Regions from separate parts of the Homo sapiens genome. Here region 1 is linked to region 2. Evidence: fine-mapped expression QTL. A gene starts in region 2. The other region holds a variant in brackets. All regions are shown on one strand. Distances are between the middles of the regions. Region 1 overlaps DES (desmin). Region 2 holds the start of DNPEP (aspartyl aminopeptidase).

Region 1 (9,405 bases), 36 kb after region 2:
GCTCAATGACCGCTTCGCCAACTACATCGAGAAGGTGCGCTTCCTGGAGCAGCAGAACGCGGCGCTCGCCGCCGAAGTGAACCGGCTCAAGGGCCGCGAGCCGACGCGAGTGGCCGAGCTCTACGAGGAGGAGCTGCGGGAGCTGCGGCGCCAGGTGGAGGTGCTCACTAACCAGCGCGCGCGCGTCGACGTCGAGCGCGACAACCTGCTCGACGACCTGCAGCGGCTCAAGGCCAAGTGAGGGCCCGGCACCCCAGACTCCTCTTTCTGCGGGCAGGGCACAGGAGGCTAGGCCTGGGGTCTGGGGTCCCGCTGTCAGCACCTGCCTTCTCCCGGGGCCCGGGACCCTCTCCTGCCCCATGTGGAGAAAGGGTCCTCCACCTGTGTGTTTCAAGGGGCCGTGACCTCCAGGTCTCTCCCCCTGCGATCCCATCTTGCACAGGAGTTTTCTTGGGGACATAGATCAGGGGGTGGATATGGGAGAATTTAGGGGACCCGGTGCCCTGTGGACAGCCCCGTTAAAAAGCATTTTAAGATGCTGGGGCGATATTTATGGGGTCAGGTAGTTGATGGGCAGAGGAAGGGCTGCAGGAGGCCCAGAGGGCAGTGTAGCCAGAGGGAGAAGGGAGGCTGATAGGAGACAGGGAAAGCAGGGCAAGGGCCCAGAGTCCAAGCAACAGCTCTCAGCTCAGCTGTGATGAGGCCCTGGGGGAGGTGGGGGGAGGGGGGAGCTTGGCCCTGGGGCCTTGCCGAGACTGTGTCTTTTTACAAGGTGAATGGACAGGCTGGAGAAAAAGGGAGTAGGTGGGGGTCACAGCTCTCAGAGAGCTTGGGAGGACCTGACTGTAGACTTCACCAGGCTCCAAGAACGAAAAGGGCAGCAAGTGTAGCATATTTGTTGGTCCCACTTCTGACAGGCCAAGTGAGCACAGTCACCCTCCTGCCACCAAAGTCATAAATATTAATTGAGCAGCTATATTGGCCAGGCTGGAGCTGGGAACCAGAAACACAGAGGTGGATAAAATAGACACAGTTTCTAACCCCAGGGAGGTCACACAGTCTGGTGGGGACATAGACTTCAAGGGTGTGGCTCCTGGGCAGAGATTGGGCCACTTCCTGTGCCCTCCCTGGGTGGGTGGGGCCTCTCCACTCCCTGTCTCTCCTGCCTCTACCCAGCAGCCAGGCCCTCCCGCTCTGTCCTGGACCCACCCCCTGGTCAGCCCCCGGCCAGTCGTTTCCACTGCCAGCTTTATCACCCGCAACTGTCTGTCTTTCTGTCTGTCCCACCCAGGCTGCAGGAGGAGATTCAGTTGAAGGAAGAAGCAGAGAACAATTTGGCTGCCTTCCGAGCGGTGAGTGCCCTTCTTTTCCCCTTGCATGGCCTCTGGCCTTGCTCTGCCCCACCTGGGTGGCGGTGACCATGTCCTTCTCGCTTGGCCTCTCCCAGGACGTGGATGCAGCTACTCTAGCTCGCATTGACCTGGAGCGCAGAATTGAATCTCTCAACGAGGAGATCGCGTTCCTTAAGAAAGTGCATGAAGAGGTATACCTTGGCCCCTCTTCCTGGGGTCACTGGGCCATGGGGAAAGCAGCCGGAAAGTGGGGTTGGGGTGAGGCTCTGGCTGGGAATAGGGGTGTGAGGGTGCTGTGTGGGCCCTGAGAGGGGACTGAAGCCCAGTCATGCCCTACAGGAGATCCGTGAGTTGCAGGCTCAGCTTCAGGAACAGCAGGTCCAGGTGGAGATGGACATGTCTAAGCCAGACCTCACTGCCGCCCTCAGGGACATCCGGGCTCAGTATGAGACCATCGCGGCTAAGAACATTTCTGAAGCTGAGGAGTGGTACAAGTCGAAGGTGGGTGGCCTCGCCCGGGGACTGGCATCTCCGTCCCCCTGAATCCCAGCTTGGATGTGCTGCCTGTGGTACCATCCATGGGAGGAGAGCCCAGAGGCTTCATGCTCCCTTGCTCATCCCTACCCGTGCCCTGCATCCTTCTCATTTTTGGGCCCCTTTCTCTGCCCTTAGGTGTCAGACCTGACCCAGGCAGCCAACAAGAACAACGACGCCCTGCGCCAGGCCAAGCAGGAGATGATGGAATACCGACACCAGATCCAGTCCTACACCTGCGAGATTGACGCCCTGAAGGGCACTGTGAGTCCCTGCCCACCTGGCCAGGCCCTGCCCCTTCCTGTCTGCAGTTCACACCCTCACTTTGTGACCTTGGGCCCATCATAGATCCTCTCTGGGCCTTCATCTACTTAAATCTACAATAGGGGTAAAACCAGACAAGTGGATTCCAGTTGGATGCTAAGGAATCAGGGGTTCCTGGGCATCTACCTATGTGGGGACTGTGAGGCTGAATGCAATGTTCCTTTGTATCTATTTTATTCTGAGTGTTCACATATAGACTTAATTTGAGTTCAGGGTTCAACATGGCCTGGACCTGACCATCTGGAGTTGCCTGCCAGCCCCAAAGCTTTCTTTGGGCTGCTAGTGTCCTCTTCCCTTCCTTGACCTGGGTTCCCCCTCTCCTGCAGAACGATTCCCTGATGAGGCAGATGCGGGAATTGGAGGACCGATTTGCCAGTGAGGCCAGTGGCTACCAGGACAACATTGCGCGCCTGGAGGAGGAAATCCGGCACCTCAAGGATGAGATGGCCCGCCATCTGCGCGAGTACCAGGACCTGCTCAACGTGAAGATGGCCCTGGATGTGGAGATTGCCACCTACCGGAAGCTGCTGGAGGGAGAGGAGAGCCGGTGAGGGGCCAGGCAGGAGCCCGAGTGGGAGGTGCGGGGTGCTGGGTGGTCCATTTCTGTCCCCAGGAGGCTCGAGATTACTGATTACCTCAACAAGACCTGGAAACAATTTTTTTTTTTTTTGAGATGGAGTTTCGCTCTTGTCGCCCAGTCTGGAGTGCAATGGCACCATCTTGGCTCACTGCAACCTCCGCCTCCTGGGTTCAAGCAATTCTCCTGCCTCAGCTTCCCGAGCAGCTGGGATTACAGGCGCCTACCACCACGCCTGGCTAATTTTTGTATTTTTAGTAGAGACGGGGTTTCACTATGTTGGGCAGCTGGTCTCGAACTCCTGACCTCAGGTGATCTGCCTACCTCAGCCTCCCAAAGTACTGGGATTACAGGCGTGAGCCACCGCACCCGGCGTGGAAACAATTTTATACAAGAGGCCACTGCTCTATTAATTGCAGAGAATTAACCAAGGCCACCTGGGTAAAAAGCAATTTAATTAACAGCATTTATAAAAAGAGAAATAT[A/C]AGTATTCCCTTATCCACCTTCAGAATTAAGAACCAGCAGCAAAAAAAACCATATTCAGCAACCAATAATAAAATATTACTGCCAGTCAAGGGAGAGATGAAAGCAGAATGGGGAGTGATGAGGAGGGAAACGGAGGGAGCAGATAGAGGCAAATAGAGAGAGGGAGGGAGAGAAGCCTTGCACAGGGATAGGCTAAGAGAAGGTAAAGAGATGCATACAGAAGGCATGAGTTTGCACACACATGCACACATGTCAGCATATGCACATGTTCGGAGGAAAAGACACAGACGTCATGCTCAGAGCAACCCACCTCTAGACACAGAAAACAACATACAACTGGAAAGGGACACCAGGGAACCTTGTGGGATAACAGAAATGTTCTATATCTTTTTTTTTTTTTTTTTTTGAGACAGAGTCTTGCTCTGTCACCCAGGCTGGAGTGCAGTGGTGTGATCTCAGCTCACTGCAACCTCTGCCTCCCAGGCTCAAGCGGTTCTCCTGTCTCAGCCTCCCTAGTAGCTGGGATTACAGGCGTGTGCCAACACACTCAGCTGATTTTTTGTATTTTTAGTAGAGATGAGGTTTCACCATGTTGGTCAGGCTGGACTCTAACTCCTGACCTCAAGTAATTCGCCTGCCTCAGCCTCCCAAAGTGCTGGGATTATAGGCATGAGCCACTGTGCCTGGCCTAGAAATGTTCTATATCTTGATTTGGACTGGTAGTTACACAGACGTGGACATTGATCAAAACTCATTGAATTGTACATTAAAGATCTGTGCATTTCACTGTATGTAAATTTAACCTCAATTTAAAACAGATCAGTTACTCCAAAAACTGGTACCCCTTGATACTCATAAAAATAATATCTGAAATTTTTAAAAAGGAGCAGACATGTTTAGATACAGGTACAAACATAAAGAGAAACTTCAGATTTTGTAAAATCACGTCTACATATGATGGCCTTTGAAGGTAGCTAAAGGCATGTTGCATTTTCCCAGCATTAGGCCTAAATAGTAAGCTCTCAGAACTGGCCTGGCTGGAGGGTGGGCATGAGCAATGGATATCACCCACAGCTGCTACTAGTACCAACTTCAGTGCCAGGAGCAAGAAGGAAATCCTGGTGCTCTGGAGGGCGCGGTGGGGTTGCACATCCTAGTGTCGTGCCAGCAGTTCACAGTTGAAATAATGATCCTTCCAGAAGAGACTATTCCTGGGACAGCTCTAGCTGGCCTTCGACCCCATTCCTTGAGCAGTATGGGTGGTGGGAGTGCTGGGGTCCGTGGGACTGGGACAGCTGAGGATGGTGTTTAGAAAGGACCAGGGTGAGCCTTGATGGGCGGTCTCAGGGAAAGATGGGAGGGTTCTTTTTTTTTTTTTTTTGAGACAGGGTCTTGTTCTGTCCCCCAGGCTGGAGTGCAGTGGTGCAATCTCCGCTCACTGCAAGCTCCACCTCCTGGGTTCGCACCATTCTCCTGCCTCACCCTCCTGAGTATCTGGAACTACAGGTGCCCGCCACCATGCCCGGCTAATTTTTTGTATTTTTAGTAGAGACGGGGTTTCACTGTGTTAGCCAGGATGGTCTCGATCTCCTGACCTGGTGATCCGCCCGCCTCGGCCTTTCAAAGTGCTGGGATTACAGCTGGGCCCGGCCGATGGGAGGGTTCTTAACTCTTAGGAGGTTTTGTCTCTTCCCTTTTAGGATCAATCTCCCCATCCAGACCTACTCTGCCCTCAACTTCCGAGGTGAGTGTCTGCTGGCAGGCGGAGGCTGGAGTTGCAGGGGCCAGGAGTCCAGCATGGGCACTGCCCAAGGCCAGCCAGGAGGGAGGATGGGACCCTGGGGCTAGGGACAGACCTGGAGTCTGGGGAAGAAAAAGGGGACCACTGCGGGTAGGTGGGGGAGTTTAGGTAGAGGTGGATGAGGCAACTTATGACAGAGAGAGCTTTTTATGTGATTATATTGTATTGTATTTACCATGTCCCCTGCACCTTCTTGGAGTATTGGGCCTCAGGAAGCAGCCTCTGTTCTGAATCCCAAACTCTGAAAGCAGGAGTGTCCTTGGGGACCTGGCTTCAGGAGCATCTCATACCACCTGCCCTCTAAGACACCCACAGCCCATTGTCTGTTTGGCACATTGCCAAGCCCCACCTTGGCTGCTTGTCGAACACCTCCAGTTTGCTGGAGCAAGATGTTGGATGCACGTTTGGAAAAAAATGCCAAATCTTAGCAAAGCCAAACAATGAAAAGAACGAGCTCTTAGGGCACTCTGCCATTTTGACATTAGTAATACGCAGATCGGGTGGCTTTCCAACCCCAGAGAGCAGAGAAACACACGATAATGATGCATTAGGAAAGCAAGTCGGAGTCCTTGGCAGCTTCTCCTTTCCTAGATCAAACCTTTTCTATCTTCGATGTACATTTCCATCAGGAAAAAAAACACGCTGCGCTCCAGCGAGTCACAACATTCATCACAGGCTGGTTGCTAGCTAAGGAAATTCGTAAGCACCAAACTCATAATACCAAGGACCTCCATTTGACCTTTCCTACACAACTCAGAGCCTCTCTTTTCAGTTAGTTGTTTATACAGACACCAAGTATGAGTCTTGCATTTAAAACTTCATAGTACAAAAAACTCCACCCACATTGCACAGTGCTTTTCCAAATCAATAGCTTTGTGGCCATGATAAGGTTGGTACCACTTCACTCCGTGTCCTCAGTGAGGAAACTGAGGCACAGAATGGCAAGTGACTGAGCATCAGCACAATGAGTCAGTGCCTTATTCCTGCTCTGTCTCACTTTAAGACATCAAGTTGCTCATCTGAATTTTTTTTTTCTTTTGAAACGGAGTCTCGCTCTGTCGCCCAGGCTGGAGTGCAGTGGTGCAATCTCGGCTCACCGCAACCTCCGCCTCCCAGGTTCAAGCAATTCTCCTGCCTCAGCCTCCTGAGTAGCTGGGATTACAGGCATGTGCCACCACGCCCCCCTAATTTTTGTATTTTTAGTAGAGACGGGGTTTCACCATGTTGGTCAGGGTGGTCTGGAACTCCTGGCCTCATGATCCACCTGCCTCGGTCTCCCAAACTACTGGGATTACAGATGTGAGCCACCGCACCTGGCCCTGAAATCTTAAAGGGAGATAGGTACTGTAAGGTCCTCTAAAGAGTGTCTTGAGACTGGGCTTTGGGGTTCTATCTTGAAGAAGGGGAGTCCCAGGAGACAAATGTGTGCAGGGCTCTCCTGGGGCCTGGGGGTGGAGAGGAACTAGGAGGGATGGGGAATGTCAGTGCTGTGCAGCCTGGGCCTCAGGTGTCCCCTACCCTCCTGCACCATCCTGCACATGGAGCAAATCTGTTGGCTCCTGAGACCATCTAAACTATGGGACAGGCGCTGGGGACTGCAGAACCACCTGCTGGGTGCTGGGCTGAAGGAAAGGTGTTAAAGTCTTGAAGAAGTAACAAGCCTGTCTTGAGGGGGGTTGGGGTCTGCTAGGGCTCTGCCCAATGTGGCCCCAGATGGACTCCCAGCCCCTGGTATAGCCCAGCCTGGACTTGGTCAGGCTGAGTGTGCGATGGACCCTGTTACAGAAACCAGCCCTGAGCAAAGGGGTTCTGAGGTCCATACCAAGAAGACGGTGATGATCAAGACCATCGAGACACGGGATGGGGAGGTAAGTGGTCTGTCTGGGCTCCTTACCCTTGGTGGGGGCTATGGATGTGTCTGGGGGGACTGTCTTCCACCCAGCTGTGCTGGTCTAGGTCCCTGGCTAGTGGGGCAAGAGAGATCCTGCGGCCCTGGGGTGGGGATGGCTCAGGGCTGAGGCTCCATTCTCTGGCTAGCACATGGTTGGACTGGGCTTCTCTTCCTCCCCAGGTCGTCAGTGAGGCCACACAGCAGCAGCATGAAGTGCTCTAAAGACAGAGACCCTCTGCCACCAGAGACCGTCCTCACCCCTGTCCTCACTGCTCCCTGAAGCCAGCCTTCTTCCATCCCAGGACACCACACCCAGCCTCAGTCCTCCCCTCACAGCCTCTGACCCCTCCTCACTGGCCATCCCTCGTGGTCCCCAACAGCGACATAGCCCATCCCTGCCTGGTCACAGGGCATGCCCCGGCCACCTCTGCGGACCCCAGCTGTGAGCCTTGGCTGTTGGCAGTGAGTGAGCCTGGCTCTTGTGCTGGATGGAGCCCAGGCGGGAGCGGTGGCCCTGTCCCTCCCACCTCTGTGACCTCAGGCACTAGCCTTTGGCTCTGGAGACAGCCCCAGAGCAGGGTGTTGGGATACTGCAGGGCCAGGACTGAGCCCCGCAGACCTCCCCAGCCCCTAGCCCAGGAGAGAGAAAGCCAGGCAGGTAGCCAGGGGGACTAGCCCCTGTGGAGACTGGGGGGCTTGAAATTGTCCCCGTGGTCTCTTACTTTCCTTTCCCCAGCCCAGGGTGGACTTAGAAAGCAGGGGCTACAAGAGGGAATCCCCGAAGGTGCTGGAGGTGGGAGCAGGAGATTGAGAAGGAGAGAAAGTGGGTGAGATGCTGGAGAAGAGAGGAGAGGAGAGAGGCAGAGAGCGGTCTCAGGCTGGTGGGAGGGGCGCCCACCTCCCCACGCCCTCCCCTCCCCTGCTGCAGGGGCTCTGGAGAGAAACAATAAAGAGATTCACACACAAGCCAAGCTGGCCCCTGTTGTCTTGACTGCCAGGTCTCCTGTGGGGCCCCTGGGGCCCTGTGATACAACCTGTCACCCTGAGATGGACTATACTGACCTTCTACCCAGCCAGACTTTCCCCAGGGCCTCGCGCCCACTTCTGTTCCCAGAGCCACCTGGCCTTGATGTCTGTATGCAGTGTATGGGGCAGGGAGGGCTGGACAGGGCTTTTGTTGGGGAACCACAAATACCTCTCGTTAGGCCCCAGTTCCAGGACTGCACCCCTTGTGCTCTCTACTACACCTTCAGGTCAGCCAGGCTGGGGGACACCACCTGCTATTCCTTTTGAAGGATGTAGCTGCTCCCCACTGACTGGCTCTGAAGTAGGGCTCCCCCAGTCCCTTCTTCAAAGATGCCAACAGCCCCTTTTTTTTCTCTCTCTCTTTTTTTCTTTTTGAGATGGAGTCTTGCTGTGTCACCCAGGCTGGAGTGCAGCAGTGTGATCACGGCTTACTGCAGCCTGGACTTCCTGAGCTCAAGCGATCCTCCCACCTCAGCCTCCCAAGTAGCTGGGACCACAGGTTCACACCACCATGCCTGGCTAGCTTTTTATTTTTTGTAGAGACAAGGTCTTTCTGTGTTGCTGAGGCTGGTCTTGAATTTCTGGGCTCAATTGCTCCTCCTGCTACCTCAGCCTCCCAAAGTGTTGGGATTACAGATGTGAGCCAATGGCCTCTTTCTATTAACTCCTTCCAATACTATTTTTATACACAGGAGCCAATTCAGGAAAAATAATGTTTGGAAAAATGGAAAGATCTGTTCTGTGCTTCGATAAGAAGGTTCAATACTCTGAAGAGAAGTCAATTCATTTTCCATTCATCTATAATTTCAATGCCATGCAATCTCAATTAAAATACCAAATAAAAATTTTAAGAGAATTGGAGAAGATGGGAGGGGAGTGTAAGACGTATGAAAAAAATTAGGAGGCTGGGCACAGTGACTCCACCTGTAATCCCAGCACTTTTGGAGGCTGAGGTGGGAGGATCTCTTGAGCCCAGGAGTTTGAGACCAGCTTGGGCAATGTAACGAGACCCTGACTCTACAAAAAATAAAAAATTAGCCTGGCATGGTGGTATGAGCCTGTAGTTCCAGCTACTTGGGAGGCTGTGGTGGGAGGATAGCTTGAGCCCAGGAGGTCGAGGCTTCAGTGAGCTGAGATTGTACCACTAACTCCAGCCTGGGTGACAGAGTGAGACTCTGTCTCAAAAAAAGAAAAAGGAAAAAAATTAGGAAATCATAGAAAGAACATCAAAATATATTAGAAGGCTATGATAATTAACAGATTTGTTAATGAAGAGGAAATATACAAATATTAATGAACAAAATAGTGTGTTTAGAACAAGACTCACATACAGGAGACATACACATGTTAAAGGAGGCATTTTGAATTTGTGGGGAAAACTTAATGATTCAGTATAGGGTTTGGAGCACTTTGA
Region 2 (9,502 bases):
GAGGACCTACTCTGTGCTGAGCCCTGGGGCTACGAGGATGGGCTGGGTAGAGTCCCTGTCCTAAAGGAAGAAGCTCACCATGTGGCACAAAGAGAGATACAGGAGAGACGGTCACCCTCGAATAAGCAGATCTATGTTGAGTCAGAGGAGACACCAAGTGCTAAGGAGGCACAGGCAGCATCTCCCCTGTCTTGGGGCCCCCAGAAGAGCCCTGGCTCACGGTGGATGCCTGGCACAACAAGTTGGCTGTGGAAGACTCCGCAGAGGTGACCCTCCCCAGAACCCTCCACGTACCTCTTCGTTGTCATAGAGTGTGACCATGCGCACGTGAGGCTCTGTGGCCAGGGAGCCAGGGCCTGCACAGGAATCTATCAAGGCCTGGTTCAGGGAAGGAAATGAGAGCATCATCTCCAACCTGCTTCTGCTGGAACTCAGCCCACCAGCACCTTGGGTGTGCACGCTCCCCCATCCACCAGCACCTTGGGTGTGCACATTCCCCTGTCTGCCTTCCATGGCCATGACTTTTATCAATTAGGGCACTGCCTGGCAGAGGGTGTGGTGGGGACCTTTTTTTTCTTGCCAAATAAATAGCTACATAGGTAGAAACCTTTAAGGTGTGGTGAGGACCTTTTTTTTCTCTTTTTTTCTTTCTTTCTTTTTTTTTTTGGCCAGATCAATAGCTAGGTAGAAACCTTTTCAACTGGGACAGGAGACACCATCCTTTGGGTGTTGTTCTCTACCTTCCCATGCAAAAGGCAGTAGAAGATGTGGAGGACAGAGAGGAAGAGCTGAGAGTCCTGGAAAGCCAAAAGGCTACACACATCACATAAACTGATTGGCCTCAGGGAAAAGACTGAGGTTCAAAGAGGTGACAGACTCCATCAAGGTGACATGACTGGCTGGTTGCCTGCAGAAGTAGATGCAGGTCCCAGGTCCAGCTCTGGTCTCAATTACAGCCCAAAGCCTATCTCCAGCCACAGGATTACAGGGAAGGAAAGGCAGAAAAAGGCAGAGGGAGATCAAGGGCAAGAGGAGAGAAAGAAAGGGAACTGACTAGGGTGGAGAGAAGGTGGGGAATATCAAGGTGACTAGGAAGAGAGGCTACCTGACTGAGATCCCAAGAAACAGGGAGAAGGCTGGGGTCTTAAGCCTGGGGAGTGGCGTAGGAAGCAGAAGGAGGTGGATGATACTGCCTTGTGGATGATAAAGCCTTTCCCTGAGGCAGAGGTTGTTAACTTCAGGAAAAGCAGCAGGAGCAAGGCTAGGACAAGAGACCATGGTGCCTGAAACAACTTCTCCTCCTTCTTCTTGCCTCAACACCCTGATAGTGCAAGGGCAGAGACCAAAGGTGGCGATGCTGAGGCTGCAACATTTAGGGCCCCCTCCTGGTCCATCCAGCACCAGCAGACTGAGCGGGTAGACAATGGCCCTCTCTCACAACCTGCTGGGGCTTTAGGCAGCTCCCCCGACCCCAAACATACCACCTCTGCTGGTGGTTATGTGCTGCCTGGGGCGCCCCGGCTCCTCACCTGCAGGGCACAGAAGCAGCTGTGCAGATTGTCCAGCCGAGGAGCAAAGATGAACTCATCATAGGCACCACCCAAGACCTAGAGAGGTAAGACAGTCAGCCCGACCTTCAACCCTCCACCCCCACTCACCTTTCTTTTGCTCCCAAGGGTCTCCTTGGTTTCTTGCGCAACCTCTCCCTGACCCCTGGCTTAGGGCACTATTTTGTTTTTTCTTTTTTTTGAGATGAAGGTTCGCTCTTGTCGCCCAGTCTGAAGTGCAATGGCTCGATCTCGGCTCACTGCAACTTCCGCCTCCCGGGTTCAAAGGATTCTCGTGCCTCAGCCTCCTGAGTAGCTGGGATTACAGGCATGCACCACCAGGCCCAGCTAATTTTTGTATTTTTATTAGAGACAGGGTTTCACCATGGTGGTCAGGCTAGTCTCGAACTCCTGACCTCATGTGATTCCCCCCGCCTCAGCCTCCCAAAGTGCTGGGATTCCTTGCTAGGCAGGACCAAGCAGAGATTGGAGAAGGGGGCTGGGTTGGTGCTGAGGAACAAAAGGGTGGAGGCCAATAGCTCTTGACCTCTTCCTGTGGGTCAAGAAAAGGAAGGGCTGAATTGTCATCAAAAAGGCCAAAGAAGTAAACAGAGGAAACCAGCCAAAAAACAGAAACTTAGTACGTGTTCAAGCAGGACACAGCATCCAAAGATTTAGCAATCTCTGACCATCAGCAACCGGGAGACAGAGAACAGATGGCCACATCCAGGCCTCTTTCCCTAAGCAGTTCAGTGTCAGTGTGGGTCAAAGCAGACAGGGCCCACCTGTAGAAGAAACTCTTTGGGAATCTGTAAAAAGGGCCAATTCCCAGATAGTCCTAGTGGGCAGGTCTGGGGTAGGGAACTTGTCTTTTTGAGAACCACCGCCCTAGAAGCAGTGGGGGATGTGTCTACTGGGAAAAACGGGGATGAGAGTTACTGAGGGCTTGGTGGAGGTGATGGGTGCTTCAGCAGGACGGGCTAGGGGTGGCCAGGATCCTGGAGGCCCTTCACCCACAGGTTCCTACAGCCAGTCCTCACCGCAGGCTGGGTGTCTGCAAGGCAGAGCTCCATCTCCACTATGTCCTTGGGGCTCAGCCCCAGATGGGCACAGAGCAGGGACATGAGGACCGAATGGTGCCGCTCATCCTGAAGAGCAGAAAGATGCTGGGAAGAGTCCATTCCTCCTCTCCTCCCCACTTCTCAGGGGACTCTGCCGCCCTCCCCATGATCAGGAGACTCTCTTACCACAGCATTGAGAGGCCCTGGCTCAGGAGTCCCCTTCTCCAGCTCCTCCTGGATGGCTGTGGCAAGAATGGGGACTCTGTGGGGAGACGTGGGTTGTGGGGGGATTGCGAGGAGGGCACAGCTGAGTGCGGCATCCATAAGTTCAGGTGCCTCCTGATGGGCAACTGCCTCTGCCCTTCAATTCCCAGCCCACTCCCCAAATCACAAGGCTGTGAGGACCCTTAGAAATTAACTGGGTCCCAAGAGTAAAATGTGACCTAATGGCTACCATTAGGTAATAATCACCTGGTACCATTCTCCATCCCTCCCAGCCACCGCAGCCCTGCCCCAGTCTCACAGATGCATCTCTGTGTTGGGCCCAAAGTTCTCGTTGATATTTCGCTGCAGATGGATGGCCAGGTGTGGGATGCGAAGAATGGGCCGCTCCACGTGCACCAGCTGCTGCTCCAGCCGACCTGAGGTAGGGCACTGCAGCCAGCCAGGCCAGGTCAGCCCAGGGTGCCTCCTACCCCAGTGGTCAGTCTTTACTTCACTCAGACTAAGCAGGGTGGTCCTCTGACCAGACTGCCCCCACCCCTCTTCCCCACGGGTACCCTGAGGAGTGTGGCAGTCAGTCTTCTGAGGAGGCTCCGCCATCCCCAACCTCGGTTCCCACCTTGACAATGACGCGTCCAGCCAGAGTCAGGTCACGGTCAAACCAGGTGCTCCAGATCCCACCACCATAGGTCTCCACACCGACTTGCTGGAAGCCCACCTGGCTGCGGCGAGACCGACGTTTCACCTGAGTGTAAAGATGGAGAAGTCAGAGAAGGCTTCATGACGATATGTGGAGATGAGACTTTGGCTACTCATAAGTAACAGACAGCGAATATTAGTGTCACATGAAAGGCTCAAGGTGTGAAGGAAGGGGCCAACAAGTTTACCTTCTCCCTTACTCCAGGGGATAGAGGCCCCAGTTTGTACCTCCTAGTTCTCTTTTGCCCTGTACTCCCTCTGACATCTCCTCCCACCCCAACACCGTCCGAGTTCCTTACCCGGAGGCAGGGGCTGTCCGTGTGGGCCCCGATGAGGCTGAAGCCATTGCCAGGAACGTACTGGCCCCCTACAGCAAAAGCTATGATGGTGGAGGAGTTCCTGGTCATGAAGTACTGAGGAGAAGGGGAGGAAAGACAGGGGTGTGAGTTGCATTACTCAGCTGGCACACAGGGCTTGGAGACCAGCCTAGGGACCTGCCTTTCCACCCCCACCCCACCCCCAGTACCTTGCTCTCGGGCTTAATATTCCATTTCTCAGTCTCCTTGAGTTCACTGAAGCCAGCCTGGAGAAGGCGGTTGCGGCATTCAGCCACAGCTGTGGGAAAAGCACCCTCTCACAGCGATGGAAGCTGGTGAAGGGCGCATCAGCCTCCACCCTCCTCCCTTGCCCTGGCCACCGCTTACCATGGAAAGGAGAGGGACTCCGGTTCACGAACTTGAGGAGTTCCTTAGCCGCAGTCTGCACCGCCTCTTTGCGGGCCTTACCGTTCATGGCCACCTAGGGGAGGGGGATGCTCAGACTTTTACAAGGTCTGGGACCCCTGACCTTTCACCCAGGTTCCGAGGATTCTCCCATCCCCACCCCCAGAAGTGACCACTCTAAGGCACAGACCTCTGCTTCCGCCCGTCCCCACCGAGAGACCCAAACCCAGGGCTGAAACTCCGTTGAAAGCTTCAGCCCGCCGGCCCAGGATCATGAGCCAGGCCCGCCCCTTAATCCGAACTTTAGCCCGACTCCCTAAGTCCCGCCCCCATGTCCCTGCCCAGCTAGGAAATCCTGTTCTGCTCCCAAACTCCGGGATCCCAAGCGGGCCCCATACTCTGAGGCGGCCTGCATCACGTGCGCGTACCCAGCCCGGAGCCAAAGCCCTGTACCCCAAGGAGCACCCTGACTCCTCTCTCGCACCCACCTAGTCTCTCGCAGGACTCCCCCTTCCAGTCCCGGGAAAGTCGTCAGGTCACCCTCCGCGGGGCTTTCGGTTTCGCTTTGGGTCAGGCGGCCCCACTGCAGCACCGCGCTAAGCTTGGGCCCCGGAGGGCGCCGGACCCGGTCTGGGATCGAAATTCAAGTGGGGCCGTCGGGAGCCACTTACCTGCATGGCCCCGCGCGTGGGGCTGTGTCCGCTCATCTGGCCTCCGGGCTCGGCCCGCCCCCACCGCGCCGCCTGCCCCGCCCCTCACTAGCTTTGCAGGTCCCCCGCGTGCCCCTTCAGGCCGCGCCGCACTCGTAGGCCTTCATCACGCTTCCCCGGCCGCGCCGCCCCGCCCCATGTTTGGCCTCCCCGCCCACCTCTCCCCGCCCCTCGGCATCCGCCCCGCCCACCTCGGTCAGCCCCGCCCCTCGGCGGGCTTACCCTGTCCGCTCCGCCCCTCGCTGGGCACCACCACCCGCCTTGCCCCGCCCTTGCCCCGCCCCTAGCTTGGCCGCACCGCCCGCCCCGCCCCGCCCCTCGCCAGGAAGCACCGCCCGCCCTGCCCCTCGCAGGGCTGCACCGCCCGCCCCGCCCCTCGTCAAGCTTCCTCGTCCGCCCCGCCTCTCGCCAGGCTGCACCGCCCTCCCCGCTTTGTCCCGCCCCTCACCAGGTTTCCCCCATCCGCTCCGGCCCTCGCTGTACCCCACTACTCGCCCTGCCCCCGCCCTTGCTCCGCCCCGCCCTTCGTCAGGCCTCCTTGCGCTCCCCGCCCCTTGTCAGGCCGTGCCGCCCACCCCGCCCCGCTCCTCGCCAGGCTGCTCCACCCGCCCCGCCGCTCGTCACGCTTCCTCGTCCGCCCCGCCCCTCGCTAGGCTGCACCGCCCGCCCCGCTTCCGCCCCATCCCTCTCCAGGCCGCGCCTCCGCCTCCGGCCCGCCCTCGTCTCCGCCCCTGCGGGGGCTGCTCGTTAGGCCCCGCCCTGCACCCCCGTCACCCACGCCGCGCGACCCGCAGCCGCCGCCAGGGCCCTCTGCTGCCGCGGAGGTGCTAGGACAGCCGCGGACGGCCCGCCTCCCCGTGCCCCGGGCCTCGAGGCCAATAAAAAGCTCGCCCCTCCAGCTCACCGGGTCCGACGGGTACGGTACAAAGTGCTGTCTCTCGCCACAGCCACCTTTGTGACAATAAAAGCAATAAGGCTAATGTCCATGGGGCGCTCACGGTGAGCTTTAGCTTTATGATAAAGATTGGCCTGTTACCTCGTTTAATCTTCACAACTGCCCCATCAACTATGTACTCTTACTGTCCCCAGTTTATGCATGAACAGAGAAAGCTGAGATACGGAGACTAGTGATCCGTCGAGGTAATAAACGGCACAGGTGGGGTTTGAACTCCATCAGTTTGATTGCAGAGGCCTGGAACAACCCTACAGCCTTCTCTCAGATCTTTTCTGGACCTTTTTCTATGCGCTTTGGTAAGTGTTATGTTACACGGGAGGTCCACAAGGGACACAGAAGTTGACTTGCCCAAGATCACATAGCTGTTTGGGTGGATCTGGGATTTGACTCTGATATCTGTGCCCTTTCCATTTGTTAAAAACAACAGAAAAACAAATTCCACATTATTGGCAGTTCCAGTATTCCCATGTCAGGAGTAGTGAGTAGCACGTTTAAACCCCATGCACCTTCCTAGCTGCAGGAACTGATCAGGACTCTTGGTGGCCTCTAGATCCAAAACAGGGCCCAGCTACCAGGGGTTCAAACAAAATTCCAGAGATCACAGGTTTATGGAGCAACCTGCCGTTTATATACCTGGGGTGGGGAGTGACAGGGTGGGATGGGGAGAGGCTGGAAAGGTCCTGCAGCCCTCACTTCAAACTAGTAGATATGGCAGGGGAGTTTTCAAGAATTCACCCACTAGGTGCTGGCTTAAATTCATGGCATTCCCTAACCGTTTGTTGAAATACCATTATGGGCCTGGCGCAGTGGCTCACGCCTGTAATCCCAGCACTTTGGGAGGCCGAGGCGGGTAGATCACTTGAGGTCAGGAGTTCGTGACCAGTCTGACCAACATGGTGAAACCCCGTCTCTACAAAAAATACAAAAATTAGCCGGGTGTAGTGGCACGTGCCTGTAATCCCAGCAGCTACTTGGGAGGCTGAGGCAAGAGAATCGCTTGAACCCGGGAGGTGGAGGTTGCAGTGAGCTGAGATCGTGCCACTGCACTCCAGCCTGGGCGACAGAGTGAGATTCTGTCTCAATAAATAAATAAATAAAATTATGTATAAAGCTCAATGCTGAGCAGGACATGGAGAGAGCATTCTTGTCCTCTACCTCCTGGGGAGGGGACACATTCAAGGAGGACAGTGAAAGGGCCGAAACAAGGCTACAATGTATAAGGGAAGGAGACAACCTGAATAAGGAACCACCTTTAATGTTCTTTCTGATCACAGAAAAGAGTACATGCTTGAGTAAGAGATTCAAACATCACCAAAATGCATAACTTAGAAAGTGAGCCGGGAGTGGTGGCTCACGCCTGTCATCCCAGCATTTTGGGAGGGAAATACAGAAGTGTTCCTATTCAAATCAGAAGTGAGACATTGATGAGCTATTACTGCTGCTAGACAATGTGGAGCTGTAGTCAGAGCCAGTACCACAAAACAAAATTAACAATTCTATATGTGCAAAAGTAAAATTGGTCATTATTTATAGATTATATGATTATCTAGAATCCCCAAGAAAATAAACGATCAAGCTATTATTAGAACTGGTAGGAAGGGTAGCCTAATTTAAAAAACACTGACTTTCTTGTACAATAATCACCTAGAAAATATAAAAGTAAAAAGGTTCTTATTGACCATTTTTGGTTTGGGTAAAAAAGAAAAAAGTAAAAGGGCTATATTTACAAGAGCAAGAAATATTGTTAAATTTCTAGTCATGAACATATGAGACACCTAATCTCACTTTAAACAGGAAAATGCAAGTTAAAAATGAGATAACAGTTGGGCGTGGTGGCTCATGCCTGTAATCCCAGCACTTTGGGAGGCAAAGGCGGGTGGATCACGAGGTCAGGAGTTTGAGACTAGCCTGGCTAAAAATACAAAAAATTAGCTGGACATGGTGGTGTGCACTTGTAATCCCAGCTACTCAGGAGACTGAGGCAGGAGAACTGCTTGAACCCGGGAGGCAGAGGTTGCAGTGAGCCGAGATCGTGCCATTGCACTCCAGCCCAGGCAACAAGTGCGAGACTCCAACTCAAAAAAAAAATTAATAAATAATAAAAATGAGATACTTTTTCTTTTTATTGAGCAGATTAACAAAAATGGAAAAGATGGGTAATATCAAGTGTTGGAGAAGGCTTGGGGTAATGCAAGCATTTTCTGGAGGCTAAAGCAACTCCATCTGGGAAGCTAATCTGCCATGTTGACTTTTCAACAACCTGTTCCAGGAATGACTCTAAGTTTTCTACTTTACCTACTATTACCATAAATCCTGCGCTTAGACAGATTCACATAGCATTCATGACTTTGCCTGAGGGGTCAACTTCAATTGTTTGACACATTGTTTCCCTATGGTATGTAAGCCCTGGGTTTGCAGGGTAATCCACCATTTCATCTCTGAAACTATGGCCTCTATTCATAAGTCCCTATGAAATGTTTCTTTCTGAGAGACTGTATATGTCAGCCTCTTTCGTCGGCTTTTCAGCTTCCCTGAACTTTGGGGGTATGTTTGCACAGACCTTTATACCCAAATTTCTGTGGTGTAAATGTTCCCCGTGGCCGATTTCAAGCTGTCGAGATGATGTCACTGAAGGGAGTTGGGAAGAGCTGTGCGGAAGCATGCCATTATGTAGATTTCCACCATGCAGACACAATGGATAGAAATAACATCAACAGCATAGATTTAAGAAGGCAGTAAAATGTTTGGAAAGGTGATGGATTTTTGGTTTTCATTATCTGTAATATAATTTATTTAATTGTAAGTGTATATAATTTAGTTTTTTTTAATGATTGCTGTGTTTAACAACAAGCTCACCAAATTCCTGGAAATTTGACAATCAGTTCTCATGAGCTTGTCCAAGTTGGCCCCAGCACACTATTCCACCCGTACTGTACATCTTTGCTACTAAATGTGTGATCTGTTGACCAGCAATGTCAATAACATCTGGGAGCTTTTTAGAAATGCAGAACCTCAGGGCTTACCCTAGAGTTATAGAATCAGCATCTGCATGTTAACAAGATTCCTAGATGATTTGAATGCTTGAGACACAGTATTTTAAAGTGCTGTGTAGCAGTTCATAAAAAAAAAAAAAAGGTCAGTCTTTAGGAATTGTTACAGAAAAGAATTCCAAATATACTGTTGAGTGAAAAAAAAAAGCAATTTCTAGAATGTAAGGTGAGGGCCTTTAGATAAAACTCACACAATGAGCTAAATTTATATTTCTAGATGTTATATAAATACATATGTAAATGGATAGAAACAGGTTTGGAAGGATAATGGTCACCTCTGGGTAAGGGAATGGTGATGGATTTGGAGTTCAGGTGGCAAAGTCAAGGGATGACTAGGGATCAAGAAAGAAAAAGTTTCTGAGAATCGTTCTTGCCCTTGGCCTTCTGAGAAAATCTTCCCTGGAAGATCTCGGCTGATGTTTACAATGCTACCATTATTCATTCATCTTTTTGGTTTAACACATATTAAAGTGCAAATACTTTTGCGTGAACATAGAAGTCAGTTACATACACTTCAGTGTGAGTTTATAAGATAC

Evidence for each region. PIP is the estimated chance that this variant, and not a neighbour inherited with it, causes the effect.
Region 1: its variant is fine-mapped to the expression of DNPEP in spleen (GTEx, PIP 0.98).

Annotation. Positions count from the first base shown.
Region 1 is chr2:219,418,804-219,428,208 of GRCh38, forward strand. DES (desmin) reads left to right here. Exons shown (of 9, transcript NM_001927.4): 1 at 1-237; 2 at 1,292-1,352; 3 at 1,448-1,543; 4 at 1,692-1,853; 5 at 2,025-2,150; 6 at 2,537-2,757; 7 at 4,974-5,017; 8 at 6,860-6,942; 9 at 7,146-7,931. The coding sequence ends at 7,187. Among named protein-coding and RNA genes, the nearest start is that of DES, 5.1 kb to the left of the region's middle. The variant A/C (reference allele first, on the strand shown) is at 3,273.
Region 2 is chr2:219,382,837-219,392,338 of GRCh38, forward strand. It overlaps DNPEP (aspartyl aminopeptidase), which reads right to left and starts at 5,076. Exons shown (of 15, transcript NM_012100.4): 1 at 4,923-5,076; 2 at 4,234-4,327; 3 at 4,056-4,144; 4 at 3,829-3,942; 5 at 3,450-3,575; 6 at 3,132-3,262; 7 at 2,795-2,870; 8 at 2,588-2,695; 9 at 1,530-1,607; 10 at 295-378. The coding sequence starts at 4,958. DNPEP-AS1 (DNPEP antisense RNA 1) reads left to right here and starts at 5,734. Exons shown (of 4, transcript NR_183823.1): 1 at 5,734-5,960; 2 at 6,051-6,212. RefSeq lists an enhancer at 3,757-4,603 and silencers at 4,868-5,107, 5,128-5,647, 5,728-5,877.